Linked DNA regions of Homo sapiens: region 2 is linked to region 1. Evidence: fine-mapped expression QTL. A gene starts in region 1. The other region holds a variant in brackets. All regions are shown on one strand. Distances are between the middles of the regions. Region 1 holds the start of JAGN1 (jagunal vesicle mediated transporter 1). Region 2 holds the start of IL17RC (interleukin 17 receptor C).

What was found.
Region 2: its variant is fine-mapped to the expression of JAGN1 in whole blood (INTERVAL, PIP 0.96).

Annotation. Positions count from the first base shown.
Region 1 is chr3:9,886,892-9,901,278 of GRCh38, forward strand. It overlaps JAGN1 (jagunal vesicle mediated transporter 1), which reads left to right and starts at 3,719. Exons shown (of 2, transcript NM_032492.4): 1 at 3,719-3,920; 2 at 6,024-7,458. The coding sequence starts at 3,832. The coding sequence ends at 6,486. RefSeq lists a silencer at 11,014-11,308 and an enhancer at 11,014-11,308.
Region 2 is chr3:9,916,012-9,924,457 of GRCh38, forward strand. IL17RC (interleukin 17 receptor C) reads left to right here and starts at 1,087. Exons shown (of 19, transcript NM_153460.4): 1 at 1,087-1,409; 2 at 1,702-1,723; 3 at 1,912-2,064; 4 at 2,324-2,398; 5 at 2,489-2,598; 6 at 4,480-4,591; 7 at 4,914-4,958; 8 at 7,870-8,009; 9 at 8,221-8,280. The coding sequence starts at 1,305. It overlaps IL17RE (interleukin 17 receptor E), which reads left to right. Exons shown (of 16, transcript NM_153480.2): 16 at 1-386. It also overlaps the pseudogene RNU6-882P. RefSeq lists enhancers at 340-879, 809-998. The variant GC/G (reference allele first, on the strand shown) is at 4,257.

The DNA.
Region 1 (14,387 bases):
GATCCTCCATCTCAGCCTCCTGAGTAGCTGAGACTACAGACATATGCCATCCTGCCTGGCTAATTTTATTTTTAGAGATAGGTTCTTGCTATGTCGCCGAGGCTGATCTCGAGTTCCTGGACTCAAGCAATCCTCCTGCCTCAGCCTCCCAAAGTGCTGGGATTATAGGCATGAGCCACCATGCTCAGGGTCTCATCATGTTGCCCAGGCTGGCCTCAAACTCCTGAACTCAAGCAATCTTCCCACCTCAGCCTCATGAGTAGCTGGGACTACAGGTACATGCCGCCGCAGCCAGCTTATTGTTTGGCTTTTGAACCATGTAAATGCATTACCTAGTCAACATTTTAAATTAAAAAGATATTCTTAGGCCCAACTTTGGGGAATGATTCATTTGGGTAAGGGTGGGGCCCAGAAATCTGTGTTTTTAACAAGCATCTTGGATGAGTCTATCACAGATGGTTCTAGACCAGGCTTCACAGACAGCAAAAACGATGAGAACTAATGTGGAAGCAGGTGATCCTTGGTGCAGTAAGATGGGTCCCAAAGTGTCACCAGGATTTCCACAGGGCAAAGAAAGACATTCTAGAGAGCCTGGGGGGAGGTGACAAATATTCCTGGCCCATTTCCCCAGAGGTCCCGAACCCTCTTAGTTATCCCTCAGTGGGTCCTGAACCGTCATCCCTTAAACAGGACAGTAACAGATCTGGTAGTAAAAATCCTGCAGCCCTAGGGCCACTTTGGTCTGAGTTCTTATAGTGCAATTGCTGCGTGATCCTGGGCAAGTCACTTCCCCTTTCTGAGCCTTAATTTTCCCTTGTGTAAGATAATGATAACAAAAGTAATTATCTCCAAGGGTATTGGAAAAAGAGAATGAGTTCACGTGTGTGAATATGCCTGGCATAGAGTAGGTACTCAATAAATGTTGCTGATTTCTTTTCTCTCACTCTGTCGCCCAGGCTGGAGTGCAACAGTATGATCTCTGCTCACTGCAACCTCCGTCCCCCAGGTTCAAGCGATTCTCCTGCCTCAGCCTCCCGAGTAGCTGGGACTACAGGCACGTACCACCACGCCTGGCTAATTTTTTGTATTTTTAGTAGAGACGGGGTTTCACCGTGTTAGCCAGGCTGGTCTCGATCTCCTGACCTTGTGATCTGCCCGCCTCAGCCTCCCAAAGTGTTGGGATTACAGGCGTGAGCCACTGCACCCAGCCTTTTTTCTTATTTTTTTAAAATTTGAGACAGGGTCTCACTCTGTTGCTCAGGCTGGAGTGCAGTGGTGTGATCTCAGGTCACTGCAACCTTCGCCTCCCGGGTTCAAGGGATTCTCCTGCCTCGGCTTCCCAAGTAGCTGGGACTACAGGCATGCGCTACCACACCCTGATAATGTTTGTATTTCTTTTGGTAGAGACAGGGTTTCACCATGTTGACCAGGCTAGTCTTGAACTCCTGACCTCAAGTGATCCACTGCCTCGGCCTCCCAAAGTGCTGGGATTACAGGTGTGAGCCGTGCCCGGCCAATGTTGCTGATTTCTTGCTTGCCTTTCTCAGATCCCAGCCACACAGACTCCCTTCCTAGTGTGAGCCCCTTGCTGGTCATATGTGCTCTTGTTACCCACCTACAGATGTTAAATCCCAAGGAACTCAAATCTGTTCCTCTCTGTCCATTGCCACCTCCTAGCCCAAGCCACCCCTAGGATTGCCTGAATTACTGCAGTAGCCTTCAAGTGATTCCTCTGCTTCACCCTTGGCCCCTGCAAGCCATTCTCTACACAGCAACTAGATCTATCTTTATTTATTTATTTACAGACAGTGTCTTACTCTGTTGCCCAGAATGGAATGCAGTGGCATAATCATGGCTCACTGTAACCTTGAACTCCTGGTCTCAAATGATTCTCCCACCTCATCCTCCCGAGTAGCCTGGACTACAGGCACGCACCACCATGCCAGTTAATATTATTTTATTTTTTATTTTTGTAGAGACGGGAGTCTCACTATGTTGCCCAGGCTGATCTCCTGCCTTGGCCTCCCAAAGTGCTGAGATTACAGGCTTGAGGCACTGTGCCCCCACCTAGACCTATCTTTTAAAAATGCAAAACTGTGTCATTTTCCTGGTTAAACCTTTTAGTGGTTCCCCAAACCCCCTGGGATAAAGACTTAACTCTTTACTGAACCCTCCAAATGCTCCAGTCACTCTTAAGTTTCTCAGTTCTTTGAAGAGCCAAGTGCTCTCTGGATTTGGGGCCTTCACACATGCTGTTCCCTCTGCCTGAAAAGCTCTTCCGCTCCCCACCTCTTTAGCCAATTCCCACTCAGGCTTCAGACCTCAGCTCAATTGCTGCCACTCCAGAGAGACTTTCCTAACCCTCCAGGTCAGGGAGAGAGGCCTCATTTTTCCTCCCTCAGCCTCCTGTGTTTTCTTGAATTTCTTAGCTTCATGGGTACAAGTTCTTCCCCCGACTGGGCTGGGATCCCTCAGGGGAAATGGACCATGTTTATTTCTGCGTCCCCAGGTCATAGCAGAGCATCCTGGTGCATGGAAGATGCTCACTATACATGCTTTTTTCTTTCTTTTTTTCTTTATTCGGATAATATAACTTCTTTCTTTAAAGTTTCGCTTAGTATTTTGTTGTGGTAAAATGCACATAACATAAAACTTACTATGTTAATCATTTTTAAGTGTACAGTTTCCGTGGCATTAAGCACACACATATAGTTGTGCAATCAGTACCACCATCCATCTCCAGAACTTTTTTCATCTTCCCGAACTGAAGCTCTGTACCCATTAAACACTAGCTCCCCATTCTCTGTCCACCCCTCGAGCTTCTGGCAATGGTCATTCTACTTTGTCTCTACAGATAAAGTTTATTTGGAAATAATTTTTCTTTCATGGCCTTGACATTTTTGAAGAGTACAGTCCAGCTCTCTTCTAGACTGTCCCTCCGTCTGGATTTATGTCATTTCTTCATGATTAGATTCAGTTAGGTATTTTTGGCAGAAACATCATAGAAGTGATGCTGTGTCCTCAGTCTATTAAAAGAGGCACAAGATATCAGTTTATCTCATTATTGATCAAATTAACTGACTATATGTTTAAGGGAGACAAGCCAGATTTCCTCACTGAGAGATTCCCTGTTTCTCTTTGCAATAATTAAATGTGAGAAACTTATTTTGAGACAAAGTCTCACTCTGCACTCTGTCCCCCAGGCTGGAGTGCATTGGCACAATCTCGACTTACTGCAACCTCTGCCTCCCTGGTTCAAGCGATTCTCCTGCCTCAGCCACCCAAGTAGCTGGGGTCACAGGAACCCACCACACCTGGCTAATTTTTGTATTTTTAGTAGAGACGGGATTTCACCATGTTGCCCAGGCTGGTCTTGAACTCCTGACATCAAGTGATCCACCCACCTCGGCCTCCCAAAGTGCTGGGATTAAAGGTGTGAGGCTGTGTGAATGATGTGTGCTCCAGGGAAAGTCATAGAATATATCAGTTTCCCCCTCTGTAAAGTGTGGACAGAAGTATCCTAACTGATATTACAGCTTAAGAAAGTAAAAGTGTTCAAGCGGCCTCTGGGCGCCAGCAAAAGAGGCTGGGGATTAATTTCCTGCGCGCTCCACAAGAGGCGGGGCTGGGCGGGGCGGGGGCGAGAGGGAACGAGGGCGCCTGCGCGGAGAGGAGTGACCATAGAGTCGGTCCTCCAGAGACAGAGGGGCCGGAAGTTCTCTTCACGGAGCCGCGCGGCTGCGGGGGCGCAAATAGGGTCAGTGGGCCGCTTGGCGGTGTCGTTGCGGTACCAGGTCCGCGTGAGGGGTTCGGGGGTTCTGGGCAGGCACAATGGCGTCTCGAGCAGGCCCGCGAGCGGCCGGCACCGACGGCAGCGACTTTCAGCACCGGGAGCGCGTCGCCATGCACTACCAGATGAGGTATGAAGTGAGGCGAGGAGCACGGAGGCTTTCTCCCCCGCTGGAGCCTGCGGGGCTTGGGGAGCGACGCCGGCCCGGCCTCAGGGTCTTGCTCCCCAGCCAGCCCCCGCTCACCTGCCAAGTCCCCTCCTCCCGTGACGGCTTCGGGCCTGTCCCCCATCCTGGAAAGCCCCGTGGCCCCCGCGAGCTCCACCCCTTGTTCCGCCCGGTGCCTTGAGGGGATCCAGCCCCGCGTGGGCTCCCGCCCTGCGTGGGCTCCCGAGTCACGTCGATGCTGGCCCCGCTGTATCACCTTCGAAACCGAATTTCTAATTTGAGCCTCAGCTTCCTCATCTGTAGAGGGAGAGAATAATCTGCCTTTTAGGTTTTGGTGAAAGATTAATCAGTAATTCGTGTAAAGAAAGTAGCATAAGGCCTACCACGTAATATATGGTAGGTGTTATATTTTGGGCCGTTTGGGGGGATATAGACAGTAAAAGGCAGCCTTTCCTAAGGACGCCTTGCCTAAAATGAATTTTATAAACACTCCCACGTAAGGGGTATTTCTACATTCAATTACTAGTTCGACAAATACTGAGCTTCCAAACATCATACACTGCTAGACACTAGGTTATAATAGTGAGCAAAAGCAGACGTGGTCTTTGTATACATGTTATACCTTCAATAAACAATTTTATTAAAGAAAAAAAAAACTGTTCCCTGCCTTCATGGAGCTTGAAGTCTAGAGATGACTGTTTTTTTTTTCCAACCTTTCCACATTTTCTACAATAAATATTTTTAAATAAAAATTTTAAAATTTTTACTTCCTTAAATCCATTGATCTCTCCCAGAATGTTCTTCACATCTCTCTCTCCAGAGTTTTAAAGAATGACAAGCTCTTTGAACTCTCATTTGTTTCACATCTCTAGGCCCCGGCTGAAAGGGCCCTCACAACTTAAGCAGGTGTTTTCATGCCAGCCCAGAGTAGAAACATTGCCTTTAGGGATATGAGGAGGATACGTTTGGGACGTGAGAGAATTAGAAGAATAAGATAAGTATGTACTTCTTTTGGATGAAAAAATCTAGCTGGAGAAGTATGGGCGGCCTGAGTACGTTTCCTCTCTGCCAATACCTTCTCCCGCCAGACTTTAATCCTATGGTGCAGTCAGCGTCCTCTTGCTAAACACAGCTCTGAGCTACCCTTCTGCCTTTATTATTATTATTAATTTATTTATTTATTTTTGAGACGGAGTCACGGTCTGTCGCCCAGGCTGGAGTGCAGTGGCGCGATCTCAGCTCACTTGTAAGCTCCGCCTCCCGGGTTCACGCCATTCTCAGCCTCAGCCTCCCGAGTAGCTGGGACTACAGGCGCCCGCCACCACGTGCTGCTAATTTTTTTGTATTTTTAGTAGAGACAGGGTTTCACCGTGTCAGCCAGGATGGTCTCGATCTCCTGACCTCGTGATCTGCCCGCCTCGGCCTCCCAAAGTGCTGGGATTACAGGCGTGAGCCACCGCGCCCAGCCCTGCCTTTTTATTAGTAGTATTGTTGTTGTTTTTTTTTTTTATGGAGATGGGGTCTCATTTTGTTGCCAGGCTGGTCTCGAACTCCTGGGCTCAAGCAGTCCTCCTGCTTCAGCCTACCAAAGTGCTTGGATTAGAGTTGTGAGCCCAGCCTCTTCTACTTTTAACTCTCATAGTCTTTGTGATTCATATCCCACTACCCCTCTCCCCCTAACAATATGTTCCTGCCACACATAACCACTTGCTTTCCTGGAACACAAATACTTGGGCCTTTTTGTCTGCATGCTCCTGCATGGGATGCCCATCTTCACTCATTCCTGAGCCTAGTTCAGATATCACCTGCCTCTAGATAGCCATCTCTGACATTCCATGCCAGGCAGAGTTGATTCCTCCTTCCTGTGATCCCATATATCTGGGAACATATATTTACTAGAACTTTTTCACTTCATTTTCTAATTACTTTTTCCTCCTCTGTTCTTTGTGTCCGGCTTCTAGGCTGTTTTATTCAAATTTGTATCCCAGTGTCCAGTACAGTTGTCTGGCATATAGTTGGTGGTAAGAAAAATTTGAAAGATACTTCTCCCTCTGCTCTGCCCCACAGTGTGACTCTCAAGTATGAAATCAAGAAGCTGATCTACGTACATCTGGTCATATGGCTGCTGCTGGTTGCTAAGATGAGCGTGGGACACCTGAGGCTCTTGTCACATGATCAGGTGGCCATGCCCTATCAGTGGGAATACCCGTATTTGCTGAGCATTTTGCCCTCTCTCTTGGGCCTTCTCTCCTTTCCCCGCAACAACATTAGCTACCTGGTGCTCTCCATGATCAGCATGGGACTCTTTTCCATCGCTCCACTCATTTATGGCAGCATGGAGATGTTCCCTGCTGCACAGCAGCTCTACCGCCATGGCAAGGCCTACCGTTTCCTCTTTGGTTTTTCTGCCGTTTCCATCATGTACCTGGTGTTGGTGTTGGCAGTGCAAGTGCATGCCTGGCAGTTGTACTACAGCAAGAAGCTCCTAGACTCTTGGTTCACCAGCACACAGGAGAAGAAGCATAAATGAAGCCTCTTTGGGGTGAAGCCTGGACATCCCATCGAATGAAAGGACACTAGTACAGCGGTTCCAAAATCCCTTCTGGTGATTTTAGCAGCTGTGATGTTGGTACCTGGTGCAGACCAGGCCAAAGTTCTGGAAAGCTCCTTTTGCCATCTGCTGAGGTGGCAAAACTATAATTTATTCCTGGTTGGCTAGAACTGGGTGACCAACAGCTATGAAACAAATTTCAGCTGTTTGAAGTTGAACTTTGAGGTTTTTCTTTAAGAATGAGCTTCGTCCTTGCCTCTACTCGGTCATTCTCCCCATTTCCATCCATTACCCCTTAGCCATTGAGACTAAAGGAAATAGGGAATAAATCAAATTACTTCATCTCTAGGTCACGGGTCAGGAAACATTTGGGCAGCTGCTCCCTTGGCAGGCTGTGGTCTCCTCTGCAAAGCATTTTAATTAAAAACCTCAATAAAGATGGCCCTGCCCACACTGTGCCTTGTGTTTGGGGCTTGATAGAGTGTGAAAGGTGTGTTGCTTGAAAGGTGTGGCCTTAGACACTAGGAGATGATGGGTAGAAGCTCCTTGAGAAACCTAGCAGTGGCCATAGAGAAGTAGACTGGGTATGGGGAACCTAAGTCATAGTTGTAACCTACAGCTGATTGGTAAGAACTATGGGCCAGACATTTAATCTCTCCATCTATGAAATAGTCCATTCTCATTTATCTACCTTAGGTTATGGGCTCTTCTTTTAGTTGGATATTCACATTTATCTTTCAGTGTTAACTGGGTATCAGTTATGAGTCTACTACTGTATAATGGCATCCAAAAGAATTTTAAAGTACCTCGGTTTATAGGGATTTACAATTCAGTAGAAACTTGTTATTCATGTGAAACAGTGAACATAATATCTAATGATGTGGAGCAAGTACATTAAAAACAGGAAGGAAGAGATCTGTGATTAAACTAAAGGCCCTTTCACACCTAAAATTCTGGCAGTATTTATTGCATGAAAGATAATGTGTCTCTTTGCACTTGATTTTATTGTCTCTGGATGATGCCCAGATCTGTAACTGCAGAGCTCTGCCCTCTCCAGAGATGTAGTCATTATTTTGTTCTAGAAACATTGTGTATGTAGTTAGTCATTACTGAGTCACTTTTTTTTTTTTTTTTTTTTTAATTGAGACGGAGTCTTGCTCTGTCGCCCAGGCTGGAGTGCAGTGGCACGATCTCGGCTCACTGCAAGCTCTGCCTCCCGGGTTCACACCATTCTGCCTCAACCTCCCAAGTAGCTGGGACTACAGGTGCCCACCACCACGCCCGGCTAATTTTTGTATTTTTAGTAGAGACGGGGTTTCATCGTGTTAGCTAGGATGCTCTCGATCTCCTGACCTCATGATCCGCCCTCCTCAACCTCCCAAAGTGCTGGGATTACAGGCGTAAGCCACCGTGCCTGGCCTTTTTTTTTTTTTTTTTTTTTTTTTTTAAAGGCAGTGTTTCATTTCCCTCACCCAGGCTGGAATGCAGTAGCGCCATCTTGGCTCGCCTCTACCTACCAGGCTCAAGTGATTCTCCTGCCTCAGCCTCTCAAAGTGCTTGTGTTACAGGTGTGAGCCATCGCGCCTGGCTGGCAGTACTTACAACTCTAAAACCTCTTCCTCTAGATGTCCTAATTATCATCTCAAAATAAGTATGTCCCAAACAGACCTTTGTGTTTCTGCCTCATACCCATTCCTCTTCCTGCATCCCTTTGTTCAAGTGAGTATATACCAAGAGTACAGCTCTGGATTATCTGTTCCATGATCATTAAGTCCCTACTATGATCTTTGTTGCAACTTAAATGCCTTAAGCTCTGAGGTTTCCAAAGTGGTCCCAATCCACCAGTCCTGCATTATCTCCCAATACCCCTAGTCTCATGCTGTCTTAGTCAACTAAACCTCTTATGGATCCCCATGTAGGTTTCGTGGTTTCCCAGTTTCCTTTGCTTAAAAATTTCCCTTTTCTATTTTTATACTGCTTTATTAATTATCCTTTAAGGCCCAGTTAATATGGCAATTCTTGAGCTTTCTGGTTCCTTCAATTCAAGGAACATGAATTCCTTCTCTGAGTTCTTATTTTACTGCTTTTAGGTGCTGCACAGGAGGTGTGAAAAACATGCAATTCTTTTTATTTATTTTTTTTATTTTTATTTTTTTTGAGACAAGGTCTTACTCTGTCGCCCAGGCTGGAGTGCAGTGGCATGATCTTGGCTCACTACAACCTCCGCCTCCCGGGTTCAAGCGATTCTCTTGCCTCAGCCTCCCTAGTAGCTGGGATTACAGGCGCCTGCCGCCGCGCCCGGCCTAATTTTTTTTTTTTTTAAACAGAGTCTTGCCCTGTTCCCTAGGCTGAAGTGCAGTGGCTCGATCTGGGCTCATTGCAGCTTTCCCTCCCAGGTTCAAGCGATTCTCCTGACTCAGCCTCCTGAGTAGCTGGGATTACAGGCATGTGACACTATGCCTGGCTAATTTTTGTATTCTTAATAGAGACAGGGTCTCACTATGTTGGCCAGACTGGTCTTGAACTCCTGACCTCAGATGATCATCCTGCTTTGGCCTCCCAAAGTGCTGGGATTACAGATGTGAGTTACTGTGCCCAGCCTCACATGGAATTATTGACAGGATTATTGTAAACTAAAGTCGGGGTGTATTTCACAGAGGATAGAACCAAACTGAAGTAGAGAGAAAATTTGGAGAGCAGTAGTAGATGGAAATGTATGGATAATGGAGTTAGTATGTGCACCAGACACAGATTGCTCGTTTTTAAAGAATTGGGATGCAAATAGTTTGAAATTTCTTTGGTTATTGGAATGGCACTTTATGGACTTAGAGTACTATCAAAGACCCATTATGAAAATTATTGTCAACAATGTAAACAAACCAAAACCATTTGGTTTATGTTAGTTTTCTGCTTGTTAGGTTGTCGGAATTTTGCTTTTGTGGACCTTTCCTATCACCTTTTCCTGCCTCATGGTTGTAGTGTTCCAGAAGCAAACAAGATTCCCTTGTTGAATCTTGATTTAGTAGAAAGAACATTATTTGAATCAGAAGATATGTTCAAGTACCAATGCACCTACCAATTATAGGACTAAAATCAACCCTCCCTATTTCACAGATTGTTCTAAAGATCAAATAATGTGGCTGGGCGCAGTGGCTCATACCTGTAATCTCAGCACTTTGGGAGGCCGAGGCAGGCGAATCACCTGAGGTCAGGAGTTTGAGACCAGTCTAGCCAACATGGTGAAACCCCGTCTCCACTAAAAATACAAATGGGCATGGTGGTGGGTGCCTGTACTTCCAGCTACTTGGGATGGTGTCCTAAGAGGATGGGCCAGAAGACCTGGGTTCCCCTCCCTGCCAATTATTCCTCTCTGAGCCTCGCTTTTCTCCTCTGGAGACTCACCGCTATGTCTTCCTGGCCTCTTCTGCCAGAACACACTACTTGGGGAGATCAGAGGGTTTCTGGACCCTGTAGTTCACAGAAGGTACTAAACTTAGCAGTGTGTTCACAGAAGGTACTAAACTTGGGAGGCTGGGGCAGGAGAATCGCTTGAACCCAGGAGGCTAAGGTTGTGGTGAGCCGAGATCGCGCCACTGCACTCCAGCCTGAGTGACACAATGAGACTCTGTCTCAAAAAAAAAAAAAGTTGAAATATTGTGAAACTGCTTTATGAACTATGTATCATTATATAAATATGAAAGATGGTTATTTCCTGATCTTTACAGGAGGAGAGAATGTAGGAGTTGAAGGGACTATTAGAGATAATCCAGGCCATGAGAAAGGCAATGTGGTATAATGGAATGAACAGTGTTTTTTGTTTTGTTTTGTTTTGTTTTGTTTTTGAGACTCACTCTGTCGCCTAGGCTGCAGTGCAGTGGTGCAATCTCAGCTCACTGCAACCTTTGCTCACACCCGGTTAATTTTTGTATTTTTGTAGAGACAGGGTTTCACCATGTTGGCCAGGTCTCGAACTCCTGACCTCAAGTGATCTACCCACCTCGGCCTCCCAAAGTGCTAGGATTACAGGCATGAGCCACCATGCCCAGCCAACAGTTTCTTACATTAGACAGACATAGGTGGGAATTCCAGCCAGGCATTTTACTAACTTTTGCCTTGTGCAAGATACCTGAGCCTCTGTTCTTGATCTGACACATGGGCATCATTTTAGCTACCCCCAGGATTGTTGGGAGGCTTAGATAATATGTATGGACAGGCTACATAGTAGGGGTTTAATAAGTAACAGAATGCCTTCCCTTGTTGAGCAGTGTTGGCTTCCTCGCTGAGATTGGGAGTCTCTACCTCTCAGCAATAATTTCTTGCCTCAGAATTCTGGAGGTTGATCCTTCTGGAAGAGCAGATGTAAAGAAGGGATACTCGCCCACTGTTGGTGTACATTGATCTAATTGGTGGGCCTTCCTGCCCAGGGTTCCCTATCAGTGAGCAGAGTTGCCCCAGTAGACGTTAGGAATTGGCCATTACAGGAAGAACCTGGAGCTACTGTTCCATGGTCTGACCAGAGTTCATGCACAGATAAGGCGGTGACAAGAAAAATGGCTGCCCAAGGTCCCTACAGTGCACTCTAAGCATGTGCAGGGGCCTGCCAGGACTTCCTGAGCTCCTGGCTTTGTTCCCAAGTAAAGGCTATTAATCATTAATCATGAAGTCTTGGTCAGCTCATTTTGACACAAACCACAGATGAGACAGGCCTTAGCCACCTGCCAAGAAGACAGGGCCTCTGTGCTGAAGCCCTACAACACACCTTTGTTGCTTTACTCCAATTGGCCACCTCCTATTCCAGCCACAGTTACTCCTCCCTTGTTGACACTTGCCAAACAATCCCAACTCTCCTACAAGTCTAACCACTGGTAACATTATTATAAGATCTACTTTCCTTTCTTTCCAACACTTTCATTTCTTTCTTTACATTGTTAACCCTGCCAATTGTATCACACTGCTAAGTTTAGTAACTTCTGTGAACTACAGGGTCCAGAAACCCTCTGATCTCCCCAAGTAGTGTGTTCTGGCAGAAAAGGCCAGGAAGACATAGCGGTGAGTCTCCAGAGGAGAAAAGCGAGGCTCAGAGAGGAAAAATTGGCAGGGAGGGGAACCCAGGTCTTCTGGCCCATCCTCTTAGGACACCATCTCCTAGGCCTCATATTTCTGAAGTTCTCACAGTGCTGCGGTGTTTAGCGCTCTGATCTATTGGCAAGCGGACTGGTAGACTTGGCAGCCCTTTTCCCCCTCTGACTCCAGGGAGAGTACCTGCATGCCTTCTGGGGGCTTCCCCCAGCTCAGGTGTGAAGTGTGATTGTGTGTGTGTGCATGTGTGTGTATGAGACAGAGAAAGGGGATGTGTGTGCACAAGGTGCATGTCAGCAGCACTCACAGGCTTCCTGCCAGCTCTGGAAGGGACATTTTTTGCCCCTCACAGTGTCCTCTTGCAGGTAGGATGCCTGGAGAGACGGGAGCAGGTGGGGAGGGTCAGAGGAATGGCTTTTCCAATCTCACTCAGACCTAAAACTCATTCTGGCTTTACTTTACTGTGACGCAAGCTGCCTGAGCTGGCCAGGCACCAAATAGGAGGGGGCAATGTGGGGTGAGGGCAAGGGTGGGGAGGAACTCAGAGCGTAAGCGTAGGAGAGAGATCAGCAAGTGAGGGGCTGACTTCAGCTCTTAGGTGTGTGTGCTTGGACTTTACCTAATCTTCCTGAGTGTTTTGCAGTCTGTAAAATGGGGTAATAAGACTGTGAACTCAAGGGTTGTAGTACAAATAAAATAAACTGGGCAAAATGCATGACTCAGAGCCTGATAGTAGGATTTCAGCAAATGTTGATCCCATCCCTCCCCTTCCTTAGGTTGTGCCAGAATTCACCCCTGTGCTTCTTACCTTAAATACTTTTTGGAACAGTCTCTACAATAAATAAGTAAACCAGCAAGACAATAAATAAAATGCACACGTCCTTTTCTTTTTCCCCCTTTCTTCCTCACCTTTATTCCTTTTACTTTTCCAGCGGGTCCTGGAATGCTGTTTTTCTTCCCTTTCTTCCCTCTTTCCCTCTCTTCTCTCCTCCCATCCTCCTTCCCTCCCTTCCTCTCTTCCTCCGTCCCTTCCTCCCTCCCTCCCTTCTTTCCTCCCTTCCTCCTTCCCTCCCTGCTGCCTTCTCTCCCTCCCTCCTTTCTTCCCTCCCTCCCTTCTTTCCTTCCTTCCTTTTTTTCCCTTCCTCTCTTCCTTCTTATCTCCATTTCTTTTCTGCTTCTCCTCCCATACCTTAACCAGAAGCAATTAACCAATATTTTCTCTGTGAGAGATCAGAAGATAAGGGTAAAGAAGAAGGATTGTTTTGGAATAGAACCAAGTTTCTCACTTCATGCCTCCAGCATTAGAAAACTCATTATTTGGGCCGGGCGCAGTGGCTCACGCCTGTAATCCCAGCACTTTGGGAGGCCGAGGTGGGCGGATCACAAGGTCAGCAGATTGAGACCATCCTGGCTAACACGGTGAAACCCCCTCTCTACTAAAAACGCAAAAAATTAGCCGGGTGAGGTGGCGGGTGCCTGTAGTCCCAGCTGCTCGGGAGGCTGAGGCAAGAGAATGGCGTGAACCTGGGAGGCGGAGCTTGCAGTGAGCCGAGATCGCACCACTGCACTCCAGCCTGGGCAACAGAGCAAGACTCCGTCTCAAAAAAAAAAAAAGAAAACTCATTATTGGCCAGACACAGTGGCTCACACCTGTAATCCTAGCACCTTGGGAAGCTGAGGCAGGATAACTGCTAGAGGCCAGGAGTTTGAGACCAGCTTGAGCACCATAGCCAGACCCTATATGTAGCCAGGCAAAATGGTGTGTGCCTGTGAAGGGAGGATTCACTTGAGTCCAGGAGGTTGAGGCTGCAGTAAGTGGTGATTGCGCCATTGTCCTCCAGCTTGGGTGATAGAGTGAGACTCTGTCTCAAAAAAAAAAAAAGAAAAGAAAGAAACCTCATATTTATATAGCTCTAAACCACTGTGAGTTAGGTAGAATTTGGGGGAAGGCTCTCTAACCTATTCTTAGTATGGCCAGACCACCCTTTCCTCCTTTCAGATCTTACTGTTTTGTTTGCAGAGATGGACTTCAAGGCCAAAAGGCATACTGTGTTAGGGTCTGTGTCAGGCAGCCCCTTTTGGGTTCCAAGAGCAGAGGAAGATGAGGCTGTGTGAGGGAAGACCATAGGATGATAGAGAATTGGTACCGGGCACAGTGGCTCATGCCCATAATCCTAGCACTTTGGAAGGTTGAAGCAGGTGGATCACTTGAGGCCAAGAGTTCAAGACCAGCCTGGCCAATGTGGCAAAACCCTGTCTCTACTAAAAATACAAAAATTAGCCAGGCATAGTGGTGCACAGCTGTAATCCCAGCTACTCAGGAGGCTAAGGCACAAGAATCACTTGAACCTAGGAGGCGGAGGTTGCAGTGAGCCAAGAACACACCACTGCACTCCAGCCTGGGCAACAGAGCAAGACTATCTCAAAAAAAAAAAAAAAAAAAAAAAGCCAGGTGCTGTGGTTCATGCCTGTAATCCCAGCACTTTGGGAGGCCAAGCTGGGCTCAGATCACCTTAGGTCAGGAGTCCAGGACCAGCCTGGCCAACATGGTGAAACCCGTCTCTACTAAAAATACAAAAATTAGTCTGGTGTGGTGGCGTGCACCTGTAATCCCAGCTACTCGGGAGGCTGAGGCGGGAGAATCGTTTGAACCTGGGAGGTGGAGATTGCAGTGACCTGAGATTGCACCATTTGCACTCCAGCTTGGGTGACACAGTGAGACTCTGTCTCAAAAAAAAAAAAAAAAAAGAGAGAGTTGAGTTGCGAGGGCCTAGCAAAAGGGGAGCTCCCTGAACTATAGA
Region 2 (8,446 bases), 26 kb after region 1:
GAGAGCTCCTCTAACCCCTGTTCTGATGGGGGAGGGCGGTCTTCCCACTTCCTCTCCAGAACTCCAGAAAGAGCAGTGTGCTTATGCTTCAGTCCAGGCTGGAGAGGTTGGGGCCGGGGTAGGGAGGCAGGAGCCATGTCAGTTCTGAAGGAGGGTGAGGCGGTGGGGGATTGCAGGGGGCGGCTGAGAGAAAACCTCCTTGGGGGCCAGGGATTCCCTTTCCCACTCTGAGGCTCTGGCCAGAGGGAGAGAGGACTCTGGACCTAGGAAAAGAGGCTTTTGGCTCCAGGTGGTCAGGACAGTGGGGGTTGGGGGTGGGGTGGGTGGGTGCTGGCGGTGGGGACCAAGATCCGGAAAGATGAATAAAGACAAACATGACAAACTAAGAAAACACAGTGTGCTTCTCTAGTGTGGCTGGGGAGCCTGCCTGGTGGGGTATGTGTCAGTGTGCTGGCCCAAATCCTCTGTGTCCATACCGCATGGCATCCGTCACATTCTTACAAGCAATGCCTCCAAAAGCAAAGGAGGATGGGGCAATCTCCTTGATCCCCCCCAGTGATTCTTACAAGAGGAGAGGAAAACAGAGGCTTCGCCAGATGGTGTGTCCATCATCACACAGCCGGCCCACAGCAACAGCACAGATGGGACCCCTGTCTGCCAGGCTCTGGGGTCCTGGGTTCCTTCTACTCCCCATACCGCATTTGAGCCAGGCAGTGGTGAAAAGCCCACTTTCTGGTGCCTTTTGTCCGTGCTTTTAGAGCTCCTGTCCCACAAAGGGTTACCGAGGCCCAAAGAGTGTCTGAAGGGACCGAGTGTGCCTAGTAAGGGGAGACTTAGTGGGCCCAGGACTCCAGGGCTGTGTCCTCCTTAGGGCTCCGGGGGTGAGTAAGAGCTCCCTTACTCAGCCGTGATGCATTCGCTGTCTTCTTCAGGGGCCCCTCCCAGCCAGGTGTCAGCAGAGGGAGAGGAGAGCCAAAGAAGGAGGAGGTGCGGCCACCACCCTAGTCCAAGGCTGCTGGCTCCCAAGCCTGGTGTTGGTGGGAGGGACAGAGAGGGGCGGGAACAGCCAGCAGCCTGCCGGGAGCCAAAACGAAAGCACTCCGTGCTGGAAGTAGGAGGAGAGTCAGGACTCCCAGGACAGAGAGTGCACAAACTACCCAGCACAGCCCCCTCCGCCCCCTCTGGAGGCTGAAGAGGGATTCCAGCCCCTGCCACCCACAGACACGGGCTGACTGGGGTGTCTGCCCCCCTTGGGGGGGGGCAGCACAGGGCCTCAGGCCTGGGTGCCACCTGGCACCTAGAAGATGCCTGTGCCCTGGTTCTTGCTGTCCTTGGCACTGGGCCGAAGCCCAGTGGTCCTTTCTCTGGAGAGGCTTGTGGGGCCTCAGGACGCTACCCACTGCTCTCCGGTGAGTCTGGAACCCTGGGGAGACGAGGAAAGGCTCAGGGTTCAGTTTTTGGCTCAGCAAAGCCTTAGCCTGGCTCCTGTCACTGCTGCCACTGCCAGAACTGCCCTGTCTGGTCTGTCTGGTGCTGATGGTAGAAGAGAAGAACGGGGAAGGGGCAAGAGCTGGGTCTGTCTTTCTCTGGGAGGGTCTGGGAATACGGAGCCCCAGAAAAAGGTAGGTGGAGGTCTTAGGCAGAGAACAGTGCCTAGATGGTGGGGGCACAAATTCTGACTCTCCTTTCTTTCCTTCCCAGGGCCTCTCCTGCCGCCTCTGGGGTAAGTATCCCTACTTTTAAAAAGAATTTCCCAGGTTGGCCGAAGGGAGCAGAGCTGTCCCAGGCCCATGCCCTCCATGCCCACCTCAGCCTAGGACAGCCAAGTTCTTTGGCTCTCTGGGTATGTCAGGTGCCACCAAATTCTGGGCTTGGAACAGCTTCAGCTCCCACCCGCTCCTCCACACACAGACAGTGACATACTCTGCCTGCCTGGGGACATCGTGCCTGCTCCGGGCCCCGTGCTGGCGCCTACGCACCTGCAGACAGAGCTGGTGCTGAGGTGCCAGAAGGAGACCGACTGTGACCTCTGTCTGCGTGTGGCTGTCCACTTGGCCGTGCATGGTGAGCAAGTCATCCTGTGACAGTGCATGTGTACACGTGAGTGTGTCTGGGGTGGGCATGAGGGCCAGGGGATCTCTCAAGCAGTGCTAGGCATCCTCAGTGTTCTCCTGGAGGACACCAGCAGAAGGACCCCCAGGCCAGTGTGGTCTCCCCAGCCCCTGCTTCCCAGCACTGGGCTTTCCAGAAGGAAGCCAACGCCAAAGCCAGCCAGCCCAGAGCAGGGGGCCTCACCCAGGGCCTTGCTCTTGGGTCCTTCTAGGGCACTGGGAAGAGCCTGAAGATGAGGAAAAGTTTGGAGGAGCAGCTGACTCAGGGGTGGAGGAGCCTAGGAATGGTGAGGAGAACCTGGCTGGCCCAACTGCCCCATGCCAAGGCCTGGCCTGCCGCTCCTGGGCCTGACTGACCCCTGCCCTGTTGCCCACAGCCTCTCTCCAGGCCCAAGTCGTGCTCTCCTTCCAGGCCTACCCTACTGCCCGCTGCGTCCTGCTGGAGGTGCAAGTGCCTGCTGCCCTTGTGCAGTTTGGTCAGTCTGTGGTATGCAAAATAATAATAATCACCTTCTAAACCTAAAATCTATAAAACTTTTTCACATGCATTATCTCTTTGAGGATTACAAAAGAATTAAATTTATTGAAACCCTTCAGTACCAGGCATTACAGCCAGTGTTTTACAGGTATCAACTTATTTAATTCTCACAACAGCCATGTGAGGTGGGACTATTCTTTTGATTCTGATCAGCGCTGTGGGCAAGTCCCTTCAGCCTGTTATGCCTCAGCTTTTATGTCTGTAAAATGGGGATGAGAATAGTTCTACTTCATATGCTTGACTGCGAGAAATCACCAAGCGTTTTTCAGGGTGCTTCTACTATTTTCCCCTCCTACCAGCAGTGTATGGGAGTCCTAGTTGCTTCCCATCTTTGCCAACACTTGATGGTGTAATTTTATTTTATTTTTAAATTAAATATATTTGAATTTTAAATATATGGGACCCTCCATGAATTTGCATGTCATCCTCAGGCACGGGCCTTGCTAATCTTTTCTGTATTGTTCCAGTTGTAGTATATGTGGTGCCAAAACAAGCATAAGTGTTGTAATTGTCATAATTTTTCTGCATATGTAGTGGTTTGCCATTGTGGTTTTAATTTGTATCTTCCAATGACTGATGAAGTTGAGCACTTTTTTCACATGCTTATTGGCTATTTGTGTAACTTCCTTGTGAAATATCTCTTAAAGTTTTTTTGTTTTTGTTTTTGTTTTTGTTTTTGCCACATAAAAAAACAATAGTTCTGGCCGGGCACAGTGGTTCACACCTGTAATCCCAGCACTTTGGGAGGCTGAGGCGGGCAGATCACGAAGTCAGGAGATTGAGACCATCCTGGCTAACACTGTGAAACCCTGCCTCCACTAAAAAAATACAAAAAATTAGCCAGGCATGGTGGTGGGCGCCTGTAGACCCAGCTACTCGGGAGGCAGAGGCAGGAGAATGGCGTGAACCCGGGAGGTGGAGCTTGCAGTGAGCCGAGATCGCGCCACTGCACTCCAGCCTGGGCGACAGAGCGAGATTCCGTCTCAAAAAAAAAGAATAGTCCCACCTCACATGACTGTTGTGAGAATTAAATTAAGTTGGTACCTGTAAAACACTGGATGTAATGCCTGGCACTGAATAATTTCAATAAATTTAATTCTTTTGTAATCCTCAAAACTACCTGATGAGGCATTATTAGTATCCTCATTTTCCAGATAGATAAAATGAGGCTTGGAGAGGGGAGGTCTGTGGGCTGGATGCACTTCTCTGTACTCTTGGACCAAAGAAAGAGTCCTACCATACATACCATGGTATACTTACCATGGTGTAAGTACCATGGTGCAGGGTGTTGGGGCTTCTCCCTGCCTTAGGAGGCCACATGTACCTGGAAGGTCTATTTCCACTGGGGTCAAATCACTCAAACCCTTTGACTTTCCCTCCAACCTCCAGCCCCCAGCCAATATCCTATCTGGAGAATTGTAGACTGGGAGAACATCTGCTTGGTCCATGTCACAAGCAGTTGTAAGGAACACTGAGGCACTGGGTTGAGTGTGAGAACCACTTCTGTGGGGAGGGGTGTGCCATATTGTGTTGGGGTGTCTCATCTCCTTAGCTTTGGCCAGGTGATCTAGCACAGCAGGGTGGGTGCAGGGATTTAAATGTCTAGG[GC/G]CTTTTCCCGCCCTGGTGACACTCTTACTGAGGACATTTGCTTTAGAATTGAGGCCCCTTGAAAGAAAGGTGAATAGTAGATTTCAGGCTATACAGTATAAATACAGTCATTAGTTGGGGGAGGAGGGCAGTGAGCAGAGTGGTCCCTGCAGATGATCCCACAGCCCTTGGCCTGGATTCTGAGCCCTGCACCGCCAGCCTTCCTCACCCCTCTCCTCACAGGGCTCTGTGGTATATGACTGCTTCGAGGCTGCCCTAGGGAGTGAGGTACGAATCTGGTCCTATACTCAGCCCAGGTACGAGAAGGAACTCAACCACACACAGCAGCTGCCTGGTAAGTGGACCCCCAAGTCCTGGCCCCCTAGCCTCTGTCCCCTCTGGCCATTCCCCCTCCTGATTTCACCCTCTTCTAGCTCCATCCACTCTCCGGCAGGGGTCTGAGCTGCTATCCTCCCCAGAGTCAGTCCCTCGGACCTTCTCTCTCTGGGTGATATGGCTTTCCAGCCCCTGGGGAAGGTTCTTTGAGCATTGGATAGATGTGGGTGGTATGTAGGGGATGGGGAGCCATTCCTAATGCCCCCCTGGGAGCCAAATTGCCCCCACTTCTTTCCTTGGCCCCCAGCCCCACTGGAGGCTCTTCTGTGATCTCTCCTCAGACTGCAGGGGGCTCGAAGTCTGGAACAGCATCCCGAGCTGCTGGGGTAGGGGCTAGGGCCAGTGGGCCGGGGGTAGGGAGGGGCAGGGTCTGGAGTATAAGAAACCCTTGGAGTCCACTTCAGATATGGGCTACCACATCTCAGAAGCTCACAGAACATATTCATTCATTCATTCATTCATTCATTTGTTCATAACACATTAATTGCAGTATCTGTGCTAAGCACTGGAAATAGAAAGATGAATCTTGGGTCAGGCTCAGTGGCTCATGCCTGTAATCCCAGAACTTTGGGAGGCCGAGGTAGAAGGATCACTTGAGCTCAAAAGTTCAAGACGAGCCTGGGCAACATGGCAAATCCCCGTCTCTACCAAAAATACAAAAATTAACAGGACATGGTGGTGTGCATTTGTGGTCCCAGCTACTCAGGAGGCTGAGGCAGGAGAATCACTTGAGCCTGGGAGGCAGGGGCTACAGTAAGCTGAGACTGCACCATTGCACACCAGCCTGGGTGACAGAGCAAGACTCCGTCTCAAAAAACAAAACAAAACAAAACAAAAACAAAAAACTTGAAATAAAAGCTAAGAAAGTCAAGGGTCTAACTTTTTTCCCACGTACTATTTGGATTTTGTTTTCGTTTTGTATTTTCTTTTTTATTGTGTATAACATACATACATAAAAGTATGTAAAGGGTACTGATTTTCTTTTTTTTTTTTTTTTTTGAGACAGAGTCTCGCTCTGTCGCTCAGGCTGGAGTGCAGTGGTGCAATCTCGGCTCACTGCAAGCTCCGCCTCCCAGGTTCACGCCATTCTCCTGCCTCAGCCTCCCGAGTAGCTGGGACTACAGGCACCCGCCACCACGCCTGGCTAATTTTTTTTTTTTTTTAGTAGAGACAGGGTTTCACCGTGTTAGCCAGGATGGTCTTGATCTCCTGACCTTGTGATCCGCCTGCCTCAGCCTCCCAAAGTGCTGGGATTACAGGCGTGAGCCACCACGCCCAGCCAAAGGGTACTGATTTCCATGTCCAGTTCTTTTTTTTTTTTTTTTTTTTGGCGGAATCTTGCTCTGTCGCCTAGGCTGGACTGCAGTGGTGTGATCTCAGCTCACTGCAACCTCTGCCTTCTGGGTTCAAGCGATTCTCCTGCCTCAGCCTCCCAAGCAGCTGGGATTACAGACGTGCACCACCACGCACAGCTAATTTTTGTATTTTTAGTAGACATGGAGTTTCACCATGCTGGCCAGGCTGGTCTTGAACTCCTGACCTCGTGATCCTCCCACCTCGGCCTCCCAAAGTGCTGGGATTACAGGCATGAGCCGCCACGTCCGGCCAATTTGTTTTTATATATGTATACACTTGCATAACTAGCACCCAGATCAATACATAAATACTGTGAATACATCACATACTGTGATGTTTTCTGAACTACTAAATGTTTTCAACTTCATTTTCTTTTTGCCTTCTTAAAATTAAAGTTGGCCTGCCTCTTTGGCAACTCATTAAAGACTATTCAACACCAGAGTTTTGAAAACACAGATGTGTATATCATGGATTTCATTTCTTCCTTCATTAAGTAGACATTGATTCATTTATTCAACAGATATTTATTAATTTCTGTGTACCAGGCAAATCCCTGGACACTGGAAATATTAATAAATCAATAAATGAAGATGACAAAAAACCCGACCCCACGGAGCTGGTGTCAGGGTCAGGGTGGGGGTGAGGAAGGACACAACAAACACATGGAGATGTGAAGAATGCAGTAAGTTAGACAGTGATTAGCACTAAGGAGAACATTTGTGGAAGGGCTGGGGAAGGTTGGGAGTTGTAGAGGTCAGGGATGGTCTCATTCTGGTGAGCAGAGACCTGAAAGAGGTGAGGGAGGAGCCATATATTTGAGGGAAGAGAGAATAGCCAGCAAAAAGGGCCTGGGGTGGGAGTATGTCAGGGGTGTTTAAGAAATAGTAAGGAGGGGGCCGGGCGCGGTGGCTCACGCCTGTAATCCCAGCACTTTGGGAGGCCGAGGCTGGCGGATCACGAGGTCAGGAGATCGAGACCATCCTGGCTAACACGGTGAAACCCCATCTCTACAAAAAATACAAAAAAATCAGCTGGGCATGGTGGCAGGCGCCTGTAGTCCCAGCTACTCGGGAGCCTGAGGCAGGAGAATGGCTTGAACCCCAGGAGGCAGAGCTTGCAGTGAGCCGAGATCACACCACTGCACTCCAGCCTGGGCGACAGAGCCAGACTCCATCTCAAAAAAAAAAAAAGGAAAAAAAAAAGAGAGAGAAACAGTAAGGAGGTCCTTAATAACTCTGCAGCAGAGTTATTAAGGACACAAATGCCATAGGCTGTGCGCGATGGCTCACGTCTGCAATCCCAGCACTTTGGGGAAGCTGAGGCAGGAGGATTGCTTGAGGTTAGGAGCTCAAGACCAGCCTGGCCAACATGAGCGAAATCCCATCTCTACTAAAAATACAAAAACTAGCCGGGGGTGGTGACACACGCCTGTAATCCCAGCTACTCGGGTGGCTGAGGCAAGAGAATCGCTTGAACCCAGGAGGTGGAGGTTGCAGTGAGCTATCGTGCCAATGCACTCCAGCCTGGGCAACAGAGCAAGACTCCCTCTCAAAAAAAAAAAAGGACACAAGTATCAAGAGGTAAGGTCAGAAAGGTCACAGTTCTGAACAGAGGAAAATGACTTGTTTTAAAGAGGTTACAAGATCTTTCTGCAGAGGGAGAAGCAGGGAGAATAGCTCTTCTCCGACCACACACTAGGGTCTCCACGGGCTTGGCTTTGGGCAGCTGCTAGGAGCAAAGTCTGGTCTGAAATGATGACACACGCTCTGCCCTCCGAGAGCCTCCCAGTCTAGGGGGTTTGAAGGAAACTCCAAAGGGTCAGTCGGGGATGCAGAAGAGGTGAGGAAGTCTAAGCTGCGCTCTCTTTGCCTCTCCCACCAGCCCTGCCCTGGCTCAACGTGTCAGCAGATGGTGACAACGTGCATCTGGTTCTGAATGTCTCTGAGGAGCAGCACTTCGGCCTCTCCCTGTACTGGAATCAGGTCCAGGGCCCCCCAAAACCCCGGTGGCACAAAAACCTGGTGAGGCCTCCCCCTTCCCAAGTCCATTCCCACTGTAGGCCGATGCCTGTGCAAAGGACGCAGTGCCATATCAGAGAGGATCCTTGAAGAGGACTCACCCCAAGCAAGGGAAAATTGGTGGGGGAACTTCTGCCTTCCTGGTTTCCTTGACTTTGGCCTCCTCCTCTTCCTCCTTATCTTCTCCAACCTCCTTCCTTTATTTGTTCCACAGACTGGACCGCAGATCATTACCTTGAACCACACAGACCTGGTTCCCTGCCTCTGTATTCAGGTAGGAGCAGAGTCTAGCTGGGTGCCAGAAGAGGAGTGGGAAGATGATGATGGGGGTGATCCCTGCCTTCCTGGTCTCACCATTCTTCAAACCCTTCATTGAGGTGGAGACTGTGGCTCCCTGGGGTGGCTGGCCCTCCCTTGACCCTTGCTGTCCTATGCCTTCT